3 separate regions of the Homo sapiens genome follow, and all the other regions are linked to region 3. Evidence: fine-mapped QTL for protein levels in blood plasma. A gene starts in region 3. Each other region holds a variant in brackets. All regions are shown on one strand. Distances are from middle to middle. Region 1 holds the start of LOC105369655 (a long non-coding RNA gene). Region 2 overlaps CLEC1A (C-type lectin domain family 1 member A). Region 3 holds the start of CLEC7A (C-type lectin domain containing 7A).

What was found. PIP is the chance, under the fine-mapping model, that this variant and not a neighbour inherited with it causes the effect. The UK Biobank Pharma Proteomics Project read protein levels with antibody pairs (Olink). The fine-mapping took linkage between variants from a reference panel, not from the people measured, so its PIPs are less certain.
Region 1: its variant is fine-mapped to the plasma level of the CLEC7A protein (UK Biobank, PIP 0.93). The variant lies in the coding sequence of CLEC7A. If it changes the protein, the assay may bind it differently, which can mimic a change of level.
Region 2: its variant is fine-mapped to the plasma level of the CLEC7A protein (UK Biobank, PIP above 0.99).

What each region holds. Positions count from the first base shown.
Region 1 is chr12:10,114,514-10,122,700 of GRCh38, reverse strand. CLEC7A (C-type lectin domain containing 7A) reads left to right here. Exons shown (of 6, transcript NM_197947.3): 6 at 4,111-5,924. The coding sequence ends at 4,243. It overlaps LOC105369655 (a long non-coding RNA gene), which reads right to left and starts at 7,338. Exons shown (of 4, transcript XR_007063208.1): 1 at 7,158-7,338. The variant T/G (reference allele first, on the strand shown) is at 4,213.
Region 2 is chr12:10,065,951-10,074,146 of GRCh38, reverse strand. CLEC1A (C-type lectin domain family 1 member A) reads left to right here. Exons shown (of 6, transcript NM_016511.4): 5 at 736-854; 6 at 2,634-4,593. The coding sequence ends at 2,814. It overlaps CLEC9A (C-type lectin domain containing 9A), which reads right to left. Exons shown (of 9, transcript NM_207345.4): 9 at 8,116-8,196. Among named protein-coding and RNA genes, the nearest start is that of CLEC1A, 29 kb to the left of the region's middle. The variant A/G (reference allele first, on the strand shown) is at 3,960.
Region 3 is chr12:10,124,665-10,131,499 of GRCh38, reverse strand. CLEC7A (C-type lectin domain containing 7A) reads left to right here and starts at 1,301. Exons shown (of 6, transcript NM_197947.3): 1 at 1,301-1,520; 2 at 3,655-3,753; 3 at 4,792-4,929; 4 at 6,052-6,203. The coding sequence starts at 1,418. LOC105369655 (a long non-coding RNA gene) reads right to left here. Exons shown (of 4, transcript XR_007063208.1): 2 at 260-419.

The sequences.
Region 1 (8,187 bases), 9.5 kb after region 3:
TGACCAACATGGTGAAACCCCACCTCCACTAAAAATTTAGCCGGGTGTGGTGGCATTGCCTGAAATCCCAGCTACTCAGGAGGCTGAGGCAGGAGAATTGCTTGGACCTGGGAGACAGAGGTTGCAGTGAGCTGAGATTGCACCATTGCACTCCAGCCTGGATGACAGAGTGAGACTCCAGTGAGACTCCAACTCAAAAAAAAAAAAAAAAAAAAAGAAAAAAAGAAAGAGTGCTTTCCTCTTAGAATTGTGAGATGGGTATAAAAGTAAAATAATTTAGCACAGTGTCTTGTACATAGTTAATGTGTGAGACTTATTATTAAGTTAAAAAGCAACCACATTTTCACATTTTGCATTTTAGAAAGATATTTTAAACGTATTTCACATTTGCCTGATGATACATTATTCCTTATTATGTGGTTTCTGTCACTGCTGTTGTCATTCATTTGCTTTTTAATATCTGCAGAATATGAAATATGTCTCTTTTAAGTTCTTATTATTAGTGTGTGTGTGCACACCTGTGTGTGTTTTTTCATCTGTCTCAGTAGGAGTACCGTTCAATTTGGTTTTTCAAAGAAAGTAACTTTTGACTTTGTTGACTCTGTCTTTTTATTATTTCTTTCATTAACTTTTATTCTAATCTGTATTACTTCCTTCCATCTAATTTATTTTTATTTTATTTTGTTTTATTTTTTGAGACAGAGTCTCACTCTGTCACCCAGGCTGGAGTGCAATGGCGATCTCGGCTCACTGCCAGCTCCGCCTCCCGGGTTCACGCCATTCTCCTGCCTCAGCCTCCTGAGTAGCTGGGACTACAGGCGCTCACCACCATGCCCGGCTAATTTTTTGTATATTTAGTAGAGACGGGGTTTCACCGTGTTAGCCAGGATGGTCTCGATCTCCTGACCTAATTTATTTGTTTTAAATTTGCTATTCCATCTCAAACTTCTCGTATTGGGTGCTTGCCTCATGAATTTAAGCCTTCCTTTATCTCAAGTATGTAGACTTAAGGCTATAATTTTAATGTATTTTCATTGTCTTTCAGTTCAAAATACTTTCTGATTTCCACTGTGAGCTGCTCTTTGACCCAGGAGTTATTTAGAAATGCATTTCTTAATTTACAAACATATGTGTTTCTGGTTATCTCTTTGTTTTAGGTTTCAGGCTTAGTTCCACTGTGATCAGAGAACATGCTCCACGTGCTTGTAGTTCTGTGATTTTTACGTGCTTCTTCCTCTTTCCATATGAAAAGAATTGTGTTGAAATCTTCCGCTGCGATTCTACTTACAGTTCTGTAAACATTTTATTCGATGTGTTGAAGCCGTGTTATCAGGCACATAAAGATTTAGAATTGTTACTTTTTTTCCCCTTTCTTTCCTCCTTTTTGGACGATTTAACACTTTTTCTTATTCTGTTTTTTTTTTCTGTTCATTTGGAATGTGCTCTTTCATGTCTTTTACATCTCTTTTACTAATCTTTTAGTAGTTGTTCTAGGAATTACACATGTATACTTCACTCATCAAAGACTAACATTAACTGACATTTTTATGTTCTTCCTGACCAATATAAAAATCATAGAGCATTCCTTTACTCTGTTGACTCTCTCCTCAATTTATATGCTATTATATTAATGTATTTATTTTTATTTATTTATTTTTATTTTATCGCCCAGGCTGGAGTGCAGTGGGGCAATCTTGGCCTACTGCAACCTCTGCCTCCTGGGTTCAAGCGATTCTCCCACCTCAGCCTCCTGAGTAGCTGGGACTACAGCTATGCGTCACCAGCTGGGTGTGGTGGTGGACGCCTGTAATCCCAGCTACTCAGAGGTTGAGGCACCAGAATTGCTTCAACCCGGGAGACGGAGGTTGCAGTGAGCCGAGATCGCACCACTGCACTCCAGCCTGGGTGACTGAGCCAGACTCAGTATTAAAAAAAAAAAAAAAGAAAAAGAAAAAAGAAAAAACTAGCCCTTGGGCCGGGCGCGGGGACTCACGCCTATAATCCCAGCACTTTGGGAGGCCGAGGCAGGCGGATCACTTGATCTCTGGAGTTCGATACCAGCCTGGCCAAAATGGTGAAACCCCATCTCTACAAAAAAAAAAAAAAGATATAAAAATTAGACAGACAAGGTGGCGCACAGATTTATGCAGTTAGTATTCATTTCAATTTGCCCACATATTTATGATTTTAGTTGTTTATTTCTTTCTTCCTTTCCAACTGTACATTACAGGTATTTTTTCTTAAGACTGATATTTCCAGTAAGTATAGAATTAGAGGTTTGTTGTTTTTCCTCTCAGCCACTCAAATATATTATTCCACTGTTTTCTATTTTTTACTGTTGTTTTTGAGAGGTCATCTGTTTGAAGGTAATATATGTTTTAAAACTAATGTGTTTACTCAGCACTGAAAAATTCTCAGCCATACTTGCTTCATATTTTGCTTTTCCCCATCTTTTTTCCCTTCTCCTGGAATCCCAGTTACATTCATTACAGACCCATTGACACCATCCTATATGTTTCTTTTGCTTTTTCCTGTGTTTTCATTCTTTTTTAGCTTTTTGCTCCAATCTATGTAATAACCTTTCACATATCTTCCGGTCATCTATTTTTTCTCATCTGTGGCTAATCTACCATTAAAAGCCTCTATTAAGTCTTTTATTTTGTTTGGTGACATTTTCAGTTTTATAATTTTAGTTTAGTTCTTTCTCAAATCTATTATTTCAACACGTATACTTCTACTTTTTCTTCCAACATTCTTAGTATTGTCTTCTAACTTTCAGAATACACTAACCATAGTTGTTTTAGCTTGTGTCTGATAATTCCAATTTTCTATATGTATCTGTTTCTGTTTGTTTTTTTTTTTACTATTTTTCTTTTGTGTTGATTAGTTTTCTCTTATGTCAGATTGCTTTTTATAGTGTTGTTAACATTTTATCTTAAAATCTTTGTAGAATTAATTTGAAGTGTTTTTTCATTTGCCTCTGTTCTCACCACCAGGTCTGTTCACCCAATAGTGTGAACAGTACAAACTGCTGAGCATAATCACTTAACTGTTTTACTTCTACTAGGCTAAGTACAGTGAATTTATTATCAGCCAAATGTATTTTCTACTTTCTTATAGTACTTGTTTGTCTTGAGTTTTCTCTTGCTATTTTAAATGTATGACTAGAGGACTCTTTCTATAATCACAAGTGGGCCCAAGTTAACATTTTGATATGTTACTACTTTTTTGTTTTCCGGGTGGCATTTATTTAATCTAGCTGTGTCTATGCCCCCAAAACACTTATAGGTCAAGGAAAATTTTTAAGGAATAATGCTGGTCAGAGTTCTCCCTGAGGTCTGAATCTAAGTAGTTAATCTTAGCCTTAGTCATCGCTAAAGCAAAGTTTTCTCAATCTTCCAACCTCAGGGTCAAGAGGGAGAGATACATAACCAGGACAAAGAGTGCCAAGTCATAGCTTTTGCACTGACGGTCAGTGATGCTCTTTGAGCTTGACTCATTAACACTGCTACTTAAGGAGATTGAAGACCAAACTGAACAGGACCATGCCTGCATTTAGCAGTGTTGATTTCCATAACTGTCAAGCATTGTATTGTAATATAATTCTGCTTCCAGGATACATTAAAATATACAGAGTTGTTTGCCCTGCCTTTAAATGGCCTGGGCATCTCTGATTCTCTTTTTAGTTCTAGATCTGTTTTAGCATTAATGCTTCTGCTTGGTCTACTCATTAAGTATATCCAGTAATAATTTAATTAAACTGTTACTTGATTTGATAAAGAAACATTTAAGTAATAGGCTGAAAGATATATAAAGAACTTTTTATAGAATATTAAATGATTTTTCTTCTTTGTCAGGAACTTTTTTTTTAGTTTATGCAGCTAGTAGCAGTTCTTGAAAAAAAATTAAGTCGTTTTTCTGCCTTAATAATGGAGACTATTCATTTAACCACTTGAGATTCACAACAATTTAGATTTAAGCCTCCTTTTCCAATAATAGAAACACTTCAGAACTCTTTTCACCAATATCCTTACTAATTTATTTGTGCGCCATGTAGACAGTATTCCTTAACATTTGTTCTAATTACCTCACTGTATTCTATTTTAACAGATTTCAGATCAGAACCACAGCTACCCAAGAAAACCCATCTCCAAATTGTGTATGGATTCACGTGTCAGTCATTTATGACCAACTGTGTAGTGTGCCCTCATA[T/G]AGTATTTGTGAGAAGAAGTTTTCAATGTAAGAGGAAGGGTGGAGAAGGAGAGAGAAATATGTGAGGTAGTAAGGAGGACAGAAAACAGAACAGAAAAGAGTAACAGCTGAGGTCAAGATAAATGCAGAAAATGTTTAGAGAGCTTGGCCAACTGTAATCTTAACCAAGAAATTGAAGGGAGAGGCTGTGATTTCTGTATTTGTCGACCTACAGGTAGGCTAGTATTATTTTTCTAGTTAGTAGATCCCTAGACATGGAATCAGGGCAGCCAAGCTTGAGTTTTTATTTTTTATTTATTTATTTTTTTGAGATAGGGTCTCACTTTGTTACCCAGGCTGGAGTGCAGTGGCACAATCTCGACTCACTGCAGCTATCTCTCGCCTCAGCCCCTCAAGTAGCTGGGACTACAGGTGCATGCCACCATGCCAGGCTAATTTTTGGTGTTTTTTGTAGAGACTGGGTTTTGCCATGTTGACCAAGCTGGTCTCTAACTCCTGGGCTTAAGTGATCTGCCCGCCTTGGCCTCCCAAAGTGCTGGGATTACAGATGTGAGCCACCACACCTGGCCCCAAGCTTGAATTTTCATTCTGCCATTGACTTGGCATTTACCTTGGGTAAGCCATAAGCGAATCTTAATTTCTGGCTCTATCAGAGTTGTTTCATGCTCAACAATGCCATTGAAGTGCACGGTGTGTTGCCACGATTTGACCCTCAACTTCTAGCAGTATATCAGTTATGAACTGAGGGTGAAATATATTTCTGAATAGCTAAATGAAGAAATGGGAAAAAATCTTCACCACAGTCAGAGCAATTTTATTATTTTCATCAGTATGATCATAATTATGATTATCATCTTAGTAAAAAGCAGGAACTCCTACTTTTTCTTTATCAATTAAATAGCTCAGAGAGTACATCTGCCATATCTCTAATAGAATCTTTTTTTTTTTTTTTTTTTTTGAGACAGAGTTTCGCTCTTGTTGCCCAGGCTGGAGTGCAACGGCACGATCTCGGCTCACCGCAACCTCCGCCCCCTGGGTTCAAGCAATTCTCCTGCCTCAGCCTCCCAAGTAGCTGGGATTACAGTCAGGCACCACCACACCCGGCTAATTTTGTATTTTTTTAGTAGAGACAGGGTTTCTCCATGTCGGTCAGGGTAGTCCCGAACTCCTGACCTCAAGTGATCTGCCTGCCTCGGCCTCCCAAGTGCTGGGATTACAGGCGTGAGCCACTGCACCCAGCCTAGAATCTTGTATAATATGTAATTGTAGGGAAACTGCTCTCATAGGAAAGTTTTCTGCTTTTTAAATACAAAAATACATAAAAATACATAAAATCTGATGATGAATATAAAAAAGTAACCAACCTCATTGGAACAAGTATTAACATTTTGGAATATGTTTTATTAGTTTTGTGATGTACTGTTTTACAATTTTTACCATTTTTTTCAGTAATTACTGTAAAATGGTATTATTGGAATGAAACTATATTTCCTCATGTGCTGATTTGTCTTATTTTTTTCATACTTTCCCACTGGTGCTATTTTTATTTCCAATGGATATTTCTGTATTACTAGGGAGGCATTTACAGTCCTCTAATGTTGATTAATATGTGAAAAGAAATTGTACCAATTTTACTAAATTATGCAGTTTAAAATGGATGATTTTATGTTATGTGGATTTCATTTCAATAAAAAAAAACTCTTATCAAAAAACCCATGGCCTCTAAATTATGTGCCTGTGTGTCACAATCACTATTACAATTTGCCCTCTCCCCAAAAATGATGATGAATTTGGTATGGGTGGAGTGGATATTTATAGTAGATATTTTGATATTAAAGCATTAATTCGCGATCTTAAAAATTTTAAAAACCTAAGAGAAGATAAAGATCTTTGTGAGGTTTACTATTGTTGTTTAATATGCAAATTTGTTTTCATTACTTAAAAACATGTAGAAAGGGAAGAGATAGATAGGTGCAGCAAACCACCATGGCACATATATACCTATGTAACAAATCTGCACGTTCTGCACGTGTATCCCAGAACTTAAAGTACAATTAAAAATACATACATAAATAAATAAATGATGTAATGTATAATAAACATAAAAAAAGAAAGGGAAGAGATAGATCAGGCTGAGAACATGAGGAGTATGGTTAACTGTTTTAAGTAGTTAAAGCATAGGATGGAGTTTGGAAGAGATATCTAGTATTTTAATTTTGGTTTTGTTTTGATTCATTCCTCCTGGGTCCCCAGGATATAGTGGATGACTCCAAGAAATTATGGTAATCAAGGTAAATAACTGGATGCTGAAGATCCAGCTGTACTAATCTAGTGAACAGACAGGCCAGGCAACCTAACCCATGACGTGGGTATCACGAAAGTGACGGTGTAAAGTAAGATTGCTCTACGTTGTGCAAGACATACAGTACCTGACCTGTTGAGACACGTTTATATCACAGCTTATATGGAAATATACGTTAATAAACAGAAAACATCCACCCTTTTCCAAGAGACAGAAAACATCCACACTTTTCCAAGAGACAGAAAACATCCACACTTTTCCAAGAGACAGAAAAGGTGAAATAGCTGCTAGCCGAACCTCAGTCTGAAAGTTAAATTCGAGATGAGTAATGGTCACACCAGAGGACATGCTCAGGGGCCACCATGTTCACTTGTTTGGCTTATAGCAATAATTTTTGAAGTCGTCTCTGAGCCTTCACCCTCACCCTCTACAGTCTATTTTCAAACAAATCAGAGTGAGACCATTAAATTTAAATAAAATCATGTCGGTTCTCCACTTAAAATTCTCATCAACTTCTCATGTATCTCAGAGTAAAAACAAAGCAACATAAAAAAGAAATACCTTTGTAATTATCTATAAGACGCTACATATTCTGGCCCTCTTAACTTTGAGCTAATCTCCTACTTCCTTCATCTTTACTCACCGCACTCAGGACGCCGGCTTCTCTGTTGTTTCTCAACCATGTCAGGCGTGCTTCCACCTCAAGGTATTGGTGATTCTTATCTGCTTTACCTGAATGATCCTTTTATTTTTTTGAGACGGAGTCTCGCTCTGTGGCCTAGGCTGGAGTGCAGTGGCGCGATCTCTGCTCACCGCAAGCTCCGCCTCCCGGGTTCCCGCCATTCTCCTACCTCAGCCTCCCGAGTAGCTGGGATTACAGGCGCCCGCCATCACGCTTGGCTAATTTTTTTTTGTATTTTTTAGTAGAGACGGAGTTTCACTGTGTTAGCCAGGATGTTCTGGATCTCCTGACCTCATGATCCGCCCGCCTCGGCCTCCCAAAGTGCTGGGATTACAGGCGTGAGCCACCGCGCCCGGCCTGAATGATTCTTACCCGACAAAGCTGCAGGGCCTGGCCTCTCACCTCGTTTCCATCTCTGCACAAACATGACCTTCTTAATGATGCTTACTCACATAACTATTTAAAGTTACCAACCCTTTTTCCCTACATTCTTCATCTCCCTTACCTCTGTTTATTTACCATAGCATTTATTATAGTCTAATATACTCTACTATTTACTTATTAGGTTGGTGCAAAATTGCGGTTTTTGCCATTGAAAGTATATAGGATAAAAGTAATGGCAAAAACCGCAATTACTTTTGCACCAGCATGATACTTATTCTCTTTCTTGTATATTGTCTTCCTCTTTCTTATCTATCTGTTTCTTATATATCGTCTGCCTTTCTCCGTAGAATATAGTCTCTAAAAGGACAGACAGCTTTGCTGTACATGGATGTATCCAACAGTCTGAGAATAGTACTTGCCATACAGTCGATAGTCAAAAATATTTTTTGAAAAAAAAATAAGCTTTTAAGGAAAAGTAGTATAAATGTTAATGTAGGTTTTTTATCAAAAATTATTAGGAATATACTTGAATAACTGAAGCTTGGGAAATAGTTCTAATTGCTATTTTATGAGAATCATAATTACAGGCACCTTCTAAGTGCCTTTT
Region 2 (8,196 bases), 58 kb after region 3:
GGAGGTTGAGGCTGCAGTGAGCTATGATCGTGCCACTGCACTCCAGCCTGGGCAACAGAGTGAGACCCTGTCGCCACCAATCCTCCAAAAATATCTATTAGGAGTGCAGAGTGAGACTAGATAGAAGTAAGTAAACAACTTTTAAAATGTAAACATATGTTAAATATGGATATTGGGAAAAGGATTACCATGTATAGGACTATACACATGTGTGCACATAAATATTTATAGATAGAAATTTAAAAATTTCTTTCTTCTCTTCCTAGTCTAAGACATAAATCATCCTTGCAAATTTTTCTTTTACTTTTTTTCTTCCTTTCCCAGGTATTTATAACGGTTACTACCTCATTCCTGCACTTTTCCCTCCATATTCTTCCATGTCCCAGAATCATTCTGCATCTCTTTGTTAGTCTTTCCCTCATATTTTTATGTCAACATTAATGTTTAATTCTGTGCCTTAAAAGCCATGGGTCAGGAACAAATCTTGGTTGATGTGATTTCCGCTTTCAGAATATCGACATGTGTTCCATATTTACTAAGACAAAATAAGTTATTAAACCTGGACAAATTTCTGACTGGCCTCAGCATAGATGCTTTTTCTCTTAAGCATATGAGCATCAATGTGAAGCAGGACTTGTGTGTGCTTTGAGAAAAGTGCTGGCTGGCCCATGCATGTCTGTACATGTGAGTAATCATGCCACCAAAGCTAAAGCTTTTCTTATGTGCTTTTCACAGGAATTTGCCGCGTCTCAGAGCTACTCTGAGTTTTTCTACTCTTATTGGACAGGGCTTTTGCGCCCTGACAGTGGCAAGGCCTGGCTGTGGATGGATGGAACCCCTTTCACTTCTGAACTGTAAGCCTTCAGGATATTTTATGGGAAAGGCATTTAACAAAGATATTTTGCTTGAGTGATAGAGCTCAAGAATTTGGTCCATCAAGTATTAATCAAACTTCTGCTTTGTACTGGATACTGTGTTTGCAGGAGGATGCCTGAAGATATTTGAACAATAGTGCATCCTCATTTTGTTTGTGTGTGTGTGTGTGTTTGTTCGTTTGATTGTTTTTTGAGATAGGGTCTTGTTCTGTTGCATGGGCTGGAGTGCAGTGGTGCAAGCTCTGCTCACTGAAACCTCTGCCTCCCAGGCTCAAGCTCTCCTCTCACCTCAGCCTTCTGAGTAGCTCGGACTACAGGCGTGCACCACTACATGCAGCTAATTTTTTGTCTTTTTTGGAAAGACAGGATTATGATGTGTTGCCCAGTCTTGTTTAGAACTCCTGGACTCAAGTGATTTGCCCATCTTGGCCTCCCAAAGTGCTGAGATTACAAGCATGAGCCACCGCACCCGGCCAGTGCCTGCTTTTGAACTGCTTATAAGCCAGTGAGGGAGACAGATACATAGCATTAGTAAAATATCAGGGTAGTTCTCTTGCTGCTTTCAGAAGTTTGTGTCTGGGACATACTGCAGATGAGAGAAGGGAGAGACAGAGAGAGAGAGAGAGAGAGAGAGAGATCTTTCCCTGAGTGAGTAAATTGAAGCCCAGGAGTCCAGGCTGTAATGGTGGTTGCCTAAAGTCACACAACTTGTCAGTACCCAGAGATAGCATAAGAGTTCTTGGCTTTCTGTGCAGCAAAATAGGGAGCACATCTTTTAAAAAACACAATCTCTGAGAAAAGATTTGCTGAAAATGTAAGGGGTAATATAAAACACTAGTCGTACATATGCTGTGAGCATTTAGACAGGAGTACATATGGTATCTGTGTTAGTCCATTTTTGCATCAGCATAAATGAATGCCTGAGGTTGGATAGCTTATAAAGAAAGGAGGTTTAATTGGCTCACAATCCTGCAGGCTGTACAAGCATCTGCTTGGCTTCTGAGGAGGCTTCAGGGAGCTTTACTCATGGCAGAAGGCGAAGCAAGAGCTGGCATGTCCAATGGCAAGAGAGAACACAAAAGAGAAGGGGCTGGGGGGAGGTTCCAGGCCCTTTTAAGCCACCAGATCTTGCATCAACTAACTGAGTGAGAACTCACTCATCACCAAGAAGAGGGCACCAAGCCATTCATGAGGGATCCACCCCGATGACCCGAACACCTCCCACCAGGCCCCATCTCCAACACTGGGGATAACATTTCAACTAAGATTTGGAAAGAACACACATCCAAACCACATCAGTATCCTTTGAAAGAGGAAATTGTAATTTCTCTATCAAAATATATCACATTTAAAGCCATATTTGAACAGACACCATTCTTCCCTATATACAATATATCATTATTCTCCCAGGAGACAGGATATATTTGATGTAATCATTTGTATTTTACAGTTAAGTAAACTGAGTTACAGAGAAGGTAGAGAACTTTTTAAGTGGCAGAAACACTATATAAATTTGGAGGAGAACACGTAGCTTCGCTTTAGTTAGAAATGGTTTTTGCTGTTTGGGGTGACCTGCTGTTTCTAAGAATGAGTATGGAAACTTAGGGGCTGAAGAGAAAGAGGCACATGACCCCAGTTTCCCGGTAAACTTATTCTGGTATCTAGACTATAATTTTATAACTCTAGAAAGAATGGGTATTTAATATTTTATTTTAGAAATAAACCGTGATTGAATTTACTTTTTCTTCCTTTCTTAAGGTTCCATATTATAATAGATGTCACCAGCCCAAGAAGCAGAGACTGTGTGGCCATCCTTAATGGGATGATCTTCTCAAAGGACTGCAAAGAATTGAAGCGTTGTGTCTGTGAGAGAAGGGCAGGAATGGTGAAGCCAGAGAGCCTCCATGTCCCCCCTGAAACATTAGGCGAAGGTGACTGATTCGCCCTCTGCAACTACAAATAGCAGAGTGAGCCAGGCGGTGCCAAAGCAAGGGCTAGTTGAGACATTGGGAAATGGAACATAATCAGGAAAGACTATCTCTCTGACTAGTACAAAATGGGTTCTCGTGTTTCCTGTTCAGGATCACCAGCATTTCTGAGCTTGGGTTTATGCACGTATTTAACAGTCACAAGAAGTCTTATTTACATGCCACCAACCAACCTCAGAAACCCATAATGTCATCTGCCTTCTTGGCTTAGAGATAACTTTTAGCTCTCTTTCTTCTCAATGTCTAATATCACCTCCCTGTTTTCATGTCTTCCTTACACTTGGTGGAATAAGAAACTTTTTGAAGTAGAGGAAATACATTGAGGTAACATCCTTTTCTCTGACAGTCAAGTAGTCCATCAGAAATTGGCAGTCACTTCCCAGATTGTACCAGCAAATACACAAGGAATTCTTTTTGTTTGTTTCAGTTCATACTAGTCCCTTCCCAATCCATCAGTAAAGACCCCATCTGCCTTGTCCATGCCGTTTCCCAACAGGGATGTCACTTGATATGAGAATCTCAAATCTCAATGCCTTATAAGCATTCCTTCCTGTGTCCATTAAGACTCTGATAATTGTCTCCCCTCCATAGGAATTTCTCCCAGGAAAGAAATATATCCCCATCTCCGTTTCATATCAGAACTACCGTCCCCGATATTCCCTTCAGAGAGATTAAAGACCAGAAAAAAGTGAGCCTCTTCATCTGCACCTGTAATAGTTTCAGTTCCTATTTTCTTCCATTGACCCATATTTATACCTTTCAGGTACTGAAGATTTAATAATAATAAATGTAAATACTGTGAAGTGTGTGTGATTTTACAATGGACTTATGGTTGGTGGGAAAATTCAGCATGGAAATGCTTTTCAAAATATGATAGCGGTCATTATTTTGATTGTGCCTTACTGAAAGTTTTTGGGGAATTTACAAGAGTACTGATTACATGATTATCTGGAGAAAATAAGATGTCTTTGAAATACGTGTTGGCTTCAAGAAAACAGTTTTAACGTTTTCCTAAAATGAAATCTTTTGAGGTGAGCTTATGGCATCAACACATGGTTGATGAGGAAGCTGAGTTGCATTAGTGCACATGATTTCC[A/G]GTCAGGTCATGGGAAATGAACAGAGACAGTGACATCTTTGTAGCTGCTCCTTTGTGAGGCACTTCTTTCTTGAGACGACTCCATGCACAAATATAACAGGGATCATTGGGAATGACACCATCACAGCCACCAAGTTTATTGGTTTACTGATAAATCAATTTTGAGGGTTTTATGCTAGAAAAGATAACATTATAAATCTTTGTTTTTCAACAGTGGAAACTGAGGTGCTTCAGTTTTGTTTTTCATAAACATCTATCTCATGGTAAAATGACGTATAGTAGCAATCATATGATAGAAAGAACACATTGGTGCTCATTTTCATAAACTTCATTTTGTTAGATTGTCACTTAGCAAAGACTATTGCGGATTCTTCCTTGAGAACTTTCCTTTCAATTTTCTGTTGATTTCCTTAAAATTTTCTTCAGGGTCGAGCAAGTTCTGTTGATATATTGTGTCATGCAAAGAAAACTGTATTTGTGGTTAGAAAATGAAGATTTTAGACCTCTTATTCTGATTTACTTATTAGGCAAGTCACTTTACTTCATGAAACCTATTTCACTGCATATGAAGTAGAAATAATTATAATTTCCTCATAATGTTACTGTTAGCTGAAATAAAGTAAATGTGAAATCAGTTTCATAATGTGAACTGCAATAAAAAATGTAAGGGAAGTCAAGAAAATATTTTTAAAAGGATCTAGTGATTTATTTTTAAATATAGGGGCGCACATACACATGCATAAGCAATGTTAAAAAGAAAAAAACTTCAGCTCAATTAAATTTAAAAGAGTTTAATTGAGCAATGACTCATTCACAAATCAGGCAGCCTCCAGAGCCAGAGTAGACTCAGAGGCTCCAGTGCAGCCATGTGGTGGAAGAAGATTTATGGACAGAAAAAGGAAAACGTAGTAAAGAAAACGGAAGTGAGGTACAGAAAAAGCTGGATTGCTTACAGCTCGGAGTTTGCCTTATTTGAACACAATTCAAACAGTTGGCTACATTTGATTGGCCAAAGCACAGTGATTGGCACAAGTATAGACTAGGGTCTGTTTACCCCTCAACTTGTTATAGTTGACATTATGTACAGAGAATCCTTTAAGCTAAACTTAAAATACGTAAAAAGGCAGCGTTAGGCTAAACTTGATTTATTAATAACAACAAACTTCTTTGGAAATCTGTATTTATGAACAAATTGTAGAAGGGCACCTACTTTGGGGAGCTAAGGATTTTATTACCAAATATTTTTGATGATGAGTGCAGATTTTCGATGAAAGTAGTTCATATAATAGGTACATAACAAGAAATGAGAAGTAAGCCTGCAGTTAAGCAATTGTTATGTAAGCCTTGTTGCTACAGAAAGAAAATATGACTGATAGGAGGAAGTCAAATGATTTTGTGGACTAAGCTGTAAAACAGAGACATGCACTCATTTAAGTTTTGACTCCTAGCATCCTATGTGGCTGCAGTCTAGCTCAGGGATGGATGACAAGCCACTCTTTAAGTGCCATTGATGTGAAGGGTCTAGCTGCCTAGAGTGAGTTTTGAATGGTATGTCATTCCAAGTCTGGGACTAAGGGATAGTGTCACTTTAGATTGTGAGGAGGAAAAAATAGCATACATTTGACATACTTCAGCTCCTTCCCTGAGTTTATTCTTCATGTTTCCCCTTAATCCCTTTGTCTTTATAGCAAAACTCACAATATTGATCACAATGTGAACAAACATTTCAAAACAACAGAAAAAAGTGTATAGCATAGCATTCTCACTACACACTTTAGAAAAATGATATTAAGAATAGGACATAATGATAAAGTGAATTTTAAAATCTGATTTGCTAAGAACAATATCCAGTTGAGAATCAGAGAGGGGCACTGTATGAACTGGTTTTTCTGGATGAGGAGACTTTTTTCTTTCTAGGTTCTTGTTTATGTAATTCTGAAGAAATTGCAGGAACAGTCAAACGAGGAGCCCAGCCTTTCCTGGTAGAGCTGAGATCTCCGGTACACAATAAGCTCTTTCTTTTCCTGAGGATATTGAACCAGCTTTCAGGATTTATCAACAGGAAACAGGTCATGAGCCCTGTAACAGCAGGAAGTGTGAGAAGAGTAACGGGGAGCTTTTATTTTGAGGATACAAACACATTATGAACAAGGAGAAAAGTCTAGTAGGTTAGCAGGTTGTCTCTGGGCCAGCTTTAATATTTGGGAGTCAACTCCTCTGTAGAGAGATTCTTACAGTATTTGAAGATTACAAACAAATCAGGATCCTCTGATTTAAAGTCTGCGTGACTTTTGTACACGCTTCATTATATGAATAGATTTTTAGGCTCGAATAGTATCTACTATTATTCTACCAATATTATTATGTATACTTTTTATACATTTAATGTACTTTAACCAAACATGTAAAAAAACTCTTCACATTTGCAGGATAGTTTTATTTTTAGTTTTCTTTTCGTTTGTTTAAGACTAACTTAGAACTCAATGAAAGAGATCTAAGATGCCCAATTCATTGTTGGTGGGACTAGGATATAAGACTGGCATACTCAGTGTTGTATCTGAAAAGCCTTGGTATCCTGGACCAAAAGCAACCTGCAGAGAAGAATCACCCAACTATAGCATCTGTGTGGAAAGTAGCATCGCTGCTGAGGAGATTTGTAGGAGCTGAAGTCAGCTGCGCTGTAGATAAATTCTAATTTGAAAATACTGCATCATACACTACGGGATGACATCAGCTGAAGGATGTTTGCCTTTTGCTTTATTGTACTTCTTAAAGAATGATTATAAGTGCTTCGTATCCTTCCTCTAAACATAGTTCCATGACAATACTTTGAAGAATCTTTAAGGCAAACAGTCTTTGCTAGTAAATTCCACTATTGTTTCTCCTTTATTCCAGGTTATTACATTCAGCTGCCAGCTGTCAGCTGTAAAAATCAAACACAGGAGACAATATATGCTGTGTTTTCTCTGCTATTCTCCTTTTTCAGGTTCTGCAGAAAATTAGAGAAAAATCTCTTTTACTTAAACTCCCACATTTAAACTCTAGGTCAAGGGTAAATAAACAAAAACATGCTCTTCTCATCCTTACACAACCTTACCCATTGTAAAAGGACATTTAGGTAAGAGGATATTTAGTTTCATTTAAATGATTTCCAGTGACTCAGAGAATTAGGTTTTTTTTTTACTTTATATATTTAAGTGATGCCTTTATGCTTAGGAAGAAAAGATGATAATCTAATGAATCTCAGCTCCTCTTTATGAGAAATGAAGAATTAAATAAAATTATACTGAATTAAGCAAATATTTATTGAGAACCTACTATGTGGTACGGCGTTCTTGCAGGGACGTAAGTGGTAACAAGTAATATAATAATAATTAAAGAATCTGTTCTTTCTGTAGATCACAGGGTTCTTTGCTATTAATGGTCTCTAGGGAATAAGATAGTCCATGCTTCAGGGAGTCTACAGACTTAGGGCAGAGAATGTCTATAGATTTATTTGAGGAGAATCCATTAACTTTAAAGCAGATATTCTCTCCAGAGAGTTGCTGACATTTTACACATAAACTTTAACTTCTGAATATCCCTCCAAGAGGAGCAAAAAAAGGGATCATTTTTGCCTGGGATGCACAAATAAAGGTTGATGTGTATAGATGATTGGTGGTGTAGTCCAGAGAACAAAACCAAGCACTGATAGAGTGTTCAACTCTGTGCAAGACTATTCTCAGCACTGACATATATTTACAGTCTACTCCTCACACAATATTTTGGAGTAAGTTCTGCTGTTATTTTACAATGAGGCAATCGAGGCACTGAAAGACGTAATCAAAAGTGTTGGCGTGTTAACCCTGAGGGACCAGACCATGAGCCCTTTGGTTTGCGAATGCCAGGCATGGTCATTGAGAGGAAAGAGGGAATTCACAGAATTCTCTGGAGAACATTCTGATCCTGGCATCCTGACTATTCCTTCTGCTTATGTCAACTTCTAGTAGTTCATCTTTCTAGAAGAAATCAAATCTTAAAAAGTACATTGTCTTACAGGCTGCAGATAGAAGTCTGCCTTTCTTCCAGTTTGGAAATTCGTATCTCTGTTCTTCTATCAGTCTGATAACATAATGCCTGAAAGCCTAGAAAATGCATAGAAAGATCTCACAGACAGTGAGTTTTAAAGGCCAAATTTATTTATTTATTTTAAAAATATTAGTCAGCTGTAACTACATCACCTCCCCCAAAAACATAG
Region 3 (6,835 bases):
TAGCTGGGTGCTTCACTTCAACTATCACCATGTCCTTCTGTCATATAGATAGGCAAAGTTTCTCTGTCCTCTGGATAAGGGCCAATTAACAAATCCAGAGAGTCTAGTCACATTAACTTTCCTTAACACCACTCAGTATCTTTTCCTTAGCAAACTCCACTTTAAAATGTCATCAGCTTTACTTTTGGGGAAGTTGAGTTCAGTTAATGCTGCACTGGTTCCTGTTGCAATAGTATTACTGAATAAAACCTGTCCTCACCACATTAACTAGTATCCAGATTTGTTGATCCTTGACAACACTCAGATGTCTCCTGCACTCTACTGGCTTCAAGGTCGGATAAATGAGTTGAACACCTCTTCAGTTTCCAGCAATGTTAGGTGTTTTCTATATTTCTTTGATTTGATCATTACTATGGAAACTGGAAGAGAGGGAAAAAAAATCAAACATCTAACATAATATTTCAGTCCCAACACCTTCCATAAGCTGTTCCTTGCAATATAAGTGTATGGAATGATGAAAGAGGCAGTGTAGCGTAACAGAAAAGACCACGAGTTTTGCAGCAAGAGTCAGCTTTGATTTGATTCCTTGCTCTAAATTTTTAAAATTAGCTTCTTAAACCTGAGAAAGAGGCTAAATTTTCTGTCTCATTTTTTCATTTGAAAATAGAAATAATAATGCCTACTATATAGACTTGGAAAAGTGAGATTGAACAAGAAAATATGTACAACATGTGGTACTTAGCTCATAGTAATTGTTCAATAAATGTTATTTTGTGTTAATATCTGATAATTCCCAAAGAGATTTGTTTTCTCTGTCTGTTGTTACAACAATGCATCTCCTCATGCCATCCCTCATTTACCTATCTATATATTTCCTTTATTAAGCAATGAGTTTCTTCATAGGTATCATTTTTCCTTGTATTGTAAGCTCCTACCAATTGAAAAGGTGGGCATCCAGTACCTGTTTATGTAATTTAAAAAATACATGAATAAATACATGAACAAAGTTATGGTAAACTTGGAGCACCAAAACTGAAATAGTTTGCATCGGTTAAATTAATTAATGTCAGACTTAGTTGTGAGAGTAATGAAGGCAGCATAAGACATTAATGTATGCATTTTTCTTACATTTGGTCTGAAACAAAGACTCATCTGCTATGCTGCCTTTTAGTTTTCCTGAGTCAGCAGTCTCAGAAACAGGATCTAAAGGTACAAATGGAAAATTACCACAGCATAGTTTCATTTCCTGCTCTTGAATATCTGGTTGAACTACTTAAGCTTAATTTGTTAAACTCCGGTAAGTACCTAGCCCACATGATTTGACTCAGAGATTCTCTTTTGTCCACAGACAGTCATCTCAGGAGCAGAAAGAAAAGAGCTCCCAAATGCTATATCTATTCAGGGGCTCTCAAGAACAATGGAATATCATCCTGATTTAGAAAATTTGGATGAAGATGGATATACTCAATTACACTTCGACTCTCAAAGCAATACCAGGATAGCTGTTGTTTCAGAGAAAGGTATATATATGTTTTTTCTAATGTGTGCCTTTAGCTCTCCCGTTTGAAAAGATATAAGGGGAGGCTAGGCATGGTGGCTCACACCTGTAATCCCAGCACTTTGGGAGGCCGAGGCGGGTGGATTGACTGAGGTCAGGAGTTCGAGGCCAGCTTGGCTAACGTGGTGAAACTCTGTCTCTACTAAAAATACAAAAATTAGCCGGGCATGGTGGTGCACGCCTGTAGTTCCAGGTACTTGGGAGGCTGAGGCAGGAGAATCACTTGAACCTGGGAGGTGGAGGTTGCAGTGAGCCAAGATCATGCCAATGCACTCCAGCCTGGGTGGCAGAGCAAGACTCCATCTCTGAAAAAAAATAAAAATAAAAACAAAACAAAAAGATATAAGGGGAGAAAATTTGAGAGCCTCGTGATGTGTATATTTTTATGGATATACTTTTAAAGGCTTCAGATGTCACTGAAGATAAATTGAATGCACCCTAAACCTTTTTTCATGAAAATTATTCAGTGACCAATTATTAGTGTTTAAATTAATTATGTCTGATGGCAGAAAATAGAATTTCTCTTTTCTATAGATATAGACATTTCATCAGTGAGGAATTGGTAATAAGTGGGATAATACACAAAGATAAAGGATTTCTGTATGAGTGACTTGTTGCTTGTTTGATAGAAAGGCTAGATTATCGAATGGAGGCCAGGAAACTTAAAGAAGTATATATATGAACAACATTTTTTTTTTGTGGTAAGAGATTAATTTAAATTGTTTTTAAACAAAAAACAATTATTGGTATACCAGTGATGGAAAATATATGAACATATGGTAGATAAAAACATCCCACCAGCAGGACATGAGTCTTAAACAAAGTGTAAATGAAATGAAATAGAAAGAAGGGCATTGGAGGATCTCTGTATTCATAGAATGGGTGATTTAGCCTACTCTACGATTCTCCTATGTGACAATTCTATGAAATGTCCTGACAGCTTAGTCACAGTGGAAAGCAGAAATACATTCTGGTTATGGCAATGTTCATACAAAATTAGTTCCCTATTATCTTTGAGAGAGAGAGATCATTTGTCGGTTTTGACACCAGAGTTTGCTTTCTTCTGCTTTCTGGTTATTCACACTGCACAAATATTTTCCTCTCAGCACTGATGTAATTCTTTTCTTGGGCAACCTATTGAGGAAGCGTGGAAAAAGTGGATGAGGCAAGAGGTAGGGAGACATGCGCATGTTTATGCATATGTGTAGGCAAACGGTATCCTGCAACAACACACCTATCATGTGCTAGCAGTCTCTAAACAAGGTGCTTTTATATGTGTTAGCTCGTTTAATTCCCGCAATAATCCTTTGAGATATTATTACCCCAGTTTCACAAAGAGGAATAAAAAACAACAAAGGGAGTAATTTGCCCAGGGTCATGCAACAAACATATGAAAAGGGAAAATTACCCTTAGTAATCAGTGCTATCTCCCCAACATTAAGCTATTTCCTCTAAGAATCAGTGGGATTTCAGGGATCCTACTAATGTCAAGACCTGTAGATGTCAATGTGGAACTGAAATTAGGAGCATACAGTTATCAAGCCAATGTGCCGAAATTACAATTCCAGCAATTGAAGAAGAAGGTATCCTTACTGGTGGAGAAGCACAGCAAATCCTAGGTGACCAGGTAACCTAGGCAGTGATTAATAATTCACTTAAAAATTTGCCAGTATTTTTTGTTGTTGTTGTTGGTGGTGTGTGTGTGTGTGTGTGTGTGTGTGTGTGTGTGTGTGTTTTAACAGGGTATCACTTTTTTGCCTATGCTGCTCTGGAATTCCTAGGCTCAAGTGATCCTCCTGCCACAGCCTCCAGAGTAGCTGGGACTACGGGAGCTCACCACAATGCCCAGCTAATTAAATTTTTTTTCTTTCTTTGTTTTTCTTTTTTTTTTTTGGTAGGGACAGGGTCTCCCTGTGTTGCCCAGGCTGGTCTTGAGCTTCTGGCCTCAAGCAATCCTCCTACCTCAGTCTCCCTTCTGGGATTACAGGTGTGAGCCACCGTGCAAGGCCAGATTTTTGATGAACTGTAGAATTAAACTGCCCCACCATCCGTCATTCTCTTTCTTTATTCCATTTCTGCCCCCTCTGGCTCCTCAGGATCGTGTGCTGCATCTCCTCCTTGGCGCCTCATTGCTGTAATTTTGGGAATCCTATGCTTGGTAATACTGGTGATAGCTGTGGTCCTGGGTACCATGGGTGAGTATTTGGTGGAGGAGATTAACAACAGACAATTTAGTAAGCAATTATTATGTGCCAGGCACTCTTTTAAGGGCTTGACATGCATAATCTACTTTAATTTGTATATAATCTGGTTTTATCTGTATTGGGTTGGTGCTGTTAATGCCCATTTCACTTATAAAGGGTGTGAGAGACTGAGAGGTTATTTTACCTTTCCAGGGTTATAAGCTAGTTAGTGGTGGGACCATGATTAGAAATTTGGGTGATCTGTCTAAAAAACTCATACTCTTAACTACATTGCTCTCCTACCTCCCTTACATAGCTGGTTTCAAAGCTGTGGAATTCAAAGGATAAATTAATGAAGAAAACAAGCGGAGCTGAAGAAGAAAGTACAATATGGTGCTGTCTTCCTAATGAAATAAATTCACTAAATGGACATTAAGCTATTTTTATGATTCACATTATTTAAGGAAATTATTTCCGATCTTTAATATAAACACCTTTGAATACACCAGAAATTTCCTGAGGCACTTGGTCTTAAGTCGATATTTTGTAATGGATTAATATTTTTTTTACATTTTATATCACATGCAATCTGTTGTCAGTCACCTTCAGAGAGTCTTCATGACATTCCTTAATTAGTCAAATGTTTATTGAGTGCGTTCTATGTTATAGGTACTGGGCAGTTTCTCAAGGATCTCTCATTTTTAAATAACAGAAGAAAGGTGAAAGATGTTGCTATTTCAAATCTGTCATGGGTCCAATTGACTCTATGACATTTGCCTCTTGCTGCCTCCCTCATTCTATTTCTTCTTCTCCACCTTCTTTTTTCTTTTCTTTTTTTTTTTTTACTATACCTCCTTTATAAAAGTTATGTATTTCTTTTCATCTATTCTATCAATCGTCTTTATCTCTCCACAGCAATATATCATCTATTTATCATTAATCAATAATGTATTCTTTTATTCCAATAACATTTGGGTTTTGGGATTTTAATTTTCAAACACAGCAGAATGACATTTTTTCTGTCACTATTATTATTGTTGGTATGTGAAGCTATTTGGAGATCCAATTCAGGAAGCAACACATTGGAGAATGGCTACTTTCTATCAAGAAATAAAGAGAACCACAGTCAACCCACACAATCATCTTTAGAAGACAGTGTGACTCCTACCAAAGCTGTCAAAACCACAGGCAAGGGCATAGTTAAAGGACGGAATCTTGACTCAAGAGGGTTAATTCTTGGTGCTGAAGCCTGGGGCAGGGGTGTAAAGAAAAACACTTAGATTCAATGATTGTAAATTTAAGGCAAATACACATATTAGTATTACCTTAGTGTAATGTATCCCTGTCATATATACAATAAGGTGAAATTATAAGTACCCTATGCAGTTGGCTGGACAGTTCTAAATTGGACTTTATTAATTTTTAAAATCAGTAACTGATTTATCACTGGCTATGTGCTTAGATCTACAGGAGATCATATAATTTGATACAAATAAAAGAAAAGTGTTCTCTCCCCTTACAGAATTGACATTTTAAATGCGATACAGTTAGAATAGGAAATATGACATTAGAAAGGAAGAATGACAGGGAGAAAGGAAAGAAGGGAAAATGTTGCCAAGAATAAGGAAGCTATATTAAAAATATACAAAAGAGGTAGACCTAATACACATGTCCCTGAAAACTCATCAAATTTGTTTAATCATACAATTTCATTTACTTAATTACAATTCTATACACACTTGACTTTTACTTCTAATTGCATCATAATTGACTATGACTTAATGTTTTCAGTTCAATTTTTCATCTCTGGACCCATACCTTCTCACTATTTTTATTAAGTAGCTAATAATATATAACAGAGATAGTGTATAATATGAATAATTGGCCTATACTTTTCTCACTTGGAAAGTCACATTATGAAGTAGATCTTACATCATAAAATAAGTAGCAATATGAAATTGCTGTGTACCTCAATGACTGATTGTGAGTGGACTTATTTTAAGGAGTTATTAAGGAGAAAGGTAGTTTTGAGCTGAATTAGAAGGAATAGAAGACAAGTGAAGAAAAAAAGGATGGTTGGCTGCCTAAAATACTATTTATAGCTAGTTTGTTTTTAAATTTTAAATGAATAGGAAGATTTTAATGTATTCTCATCTGTAAAATCATATCCCTGTAGTTCGAATTGACAATGAAATATAAAAATGGCAACTAATTGGTTATTTCATAAGTGTCCTTAAGATGAATGGTGTTCACACTAAAAGAGTGAATTGGTATGCTATGAACCTCATGGTACTAATCTTTTATTTCCAGGGGTTCTTTCCAGCCCTTGTCCTCCTAATTGGATTATATATGAGAAGAGCTGTTATCTATTCAGCATGTCACTAAATTCCTGGGATGGAAGTAAAAGACAATGCTGGCAACTGGGCTCTAATCTCCTAAAGATAGACAGCTCAAATGAATTGGTAAGTGTAGACTTCTGTTATGATTATCTGTGGTGTGTATCCTGAAGGAAGATAGAGGGAGATTCCAGGTAATGACAATTTTTCCTAAAATGAAGTCTTTTTTTTTTTTTTTTTTTGAGGCAGAGTCTCACTCTGTTGCCCAAGCTAGAGTGCAGTGAAGCCGCGACATCCCAGGCTCAAGTGATCCTCCCACCTCAGCTTCCTGAGTAGGTAGGACTACAGGGTGCACCACCACACTCGTCTAATGTTTTTTTGTATTTTTCATAGAGACGAGGTTTCTCCATATCATCTGGGCTGGTCTCAAAATCCTGGGCACAAGCGATCTGCCTACCTCGATCTCCCAGTGTTGGGATTACAGGTGTAAGCCACCATACTTGGCCAAAATTCATTTTTAATATCTCTATAATTATAATCATAGCATGCCTTAAGCACATAAAGTGCATAGTATATGCTTTTATTTTTAACTAATTTAAAAAACTGTGTTTCGCCTTAAAACAAATCCTTTCAAACATACTCCATGTATGCATGACTACAATAATCAGGACACTACCCATTTTTGTGAGTTTGTATTTCAATTTTTAAATATGGTGGAAGTAAAGTAGAAAATTCTTCTCCTTGTCATCATAATTATC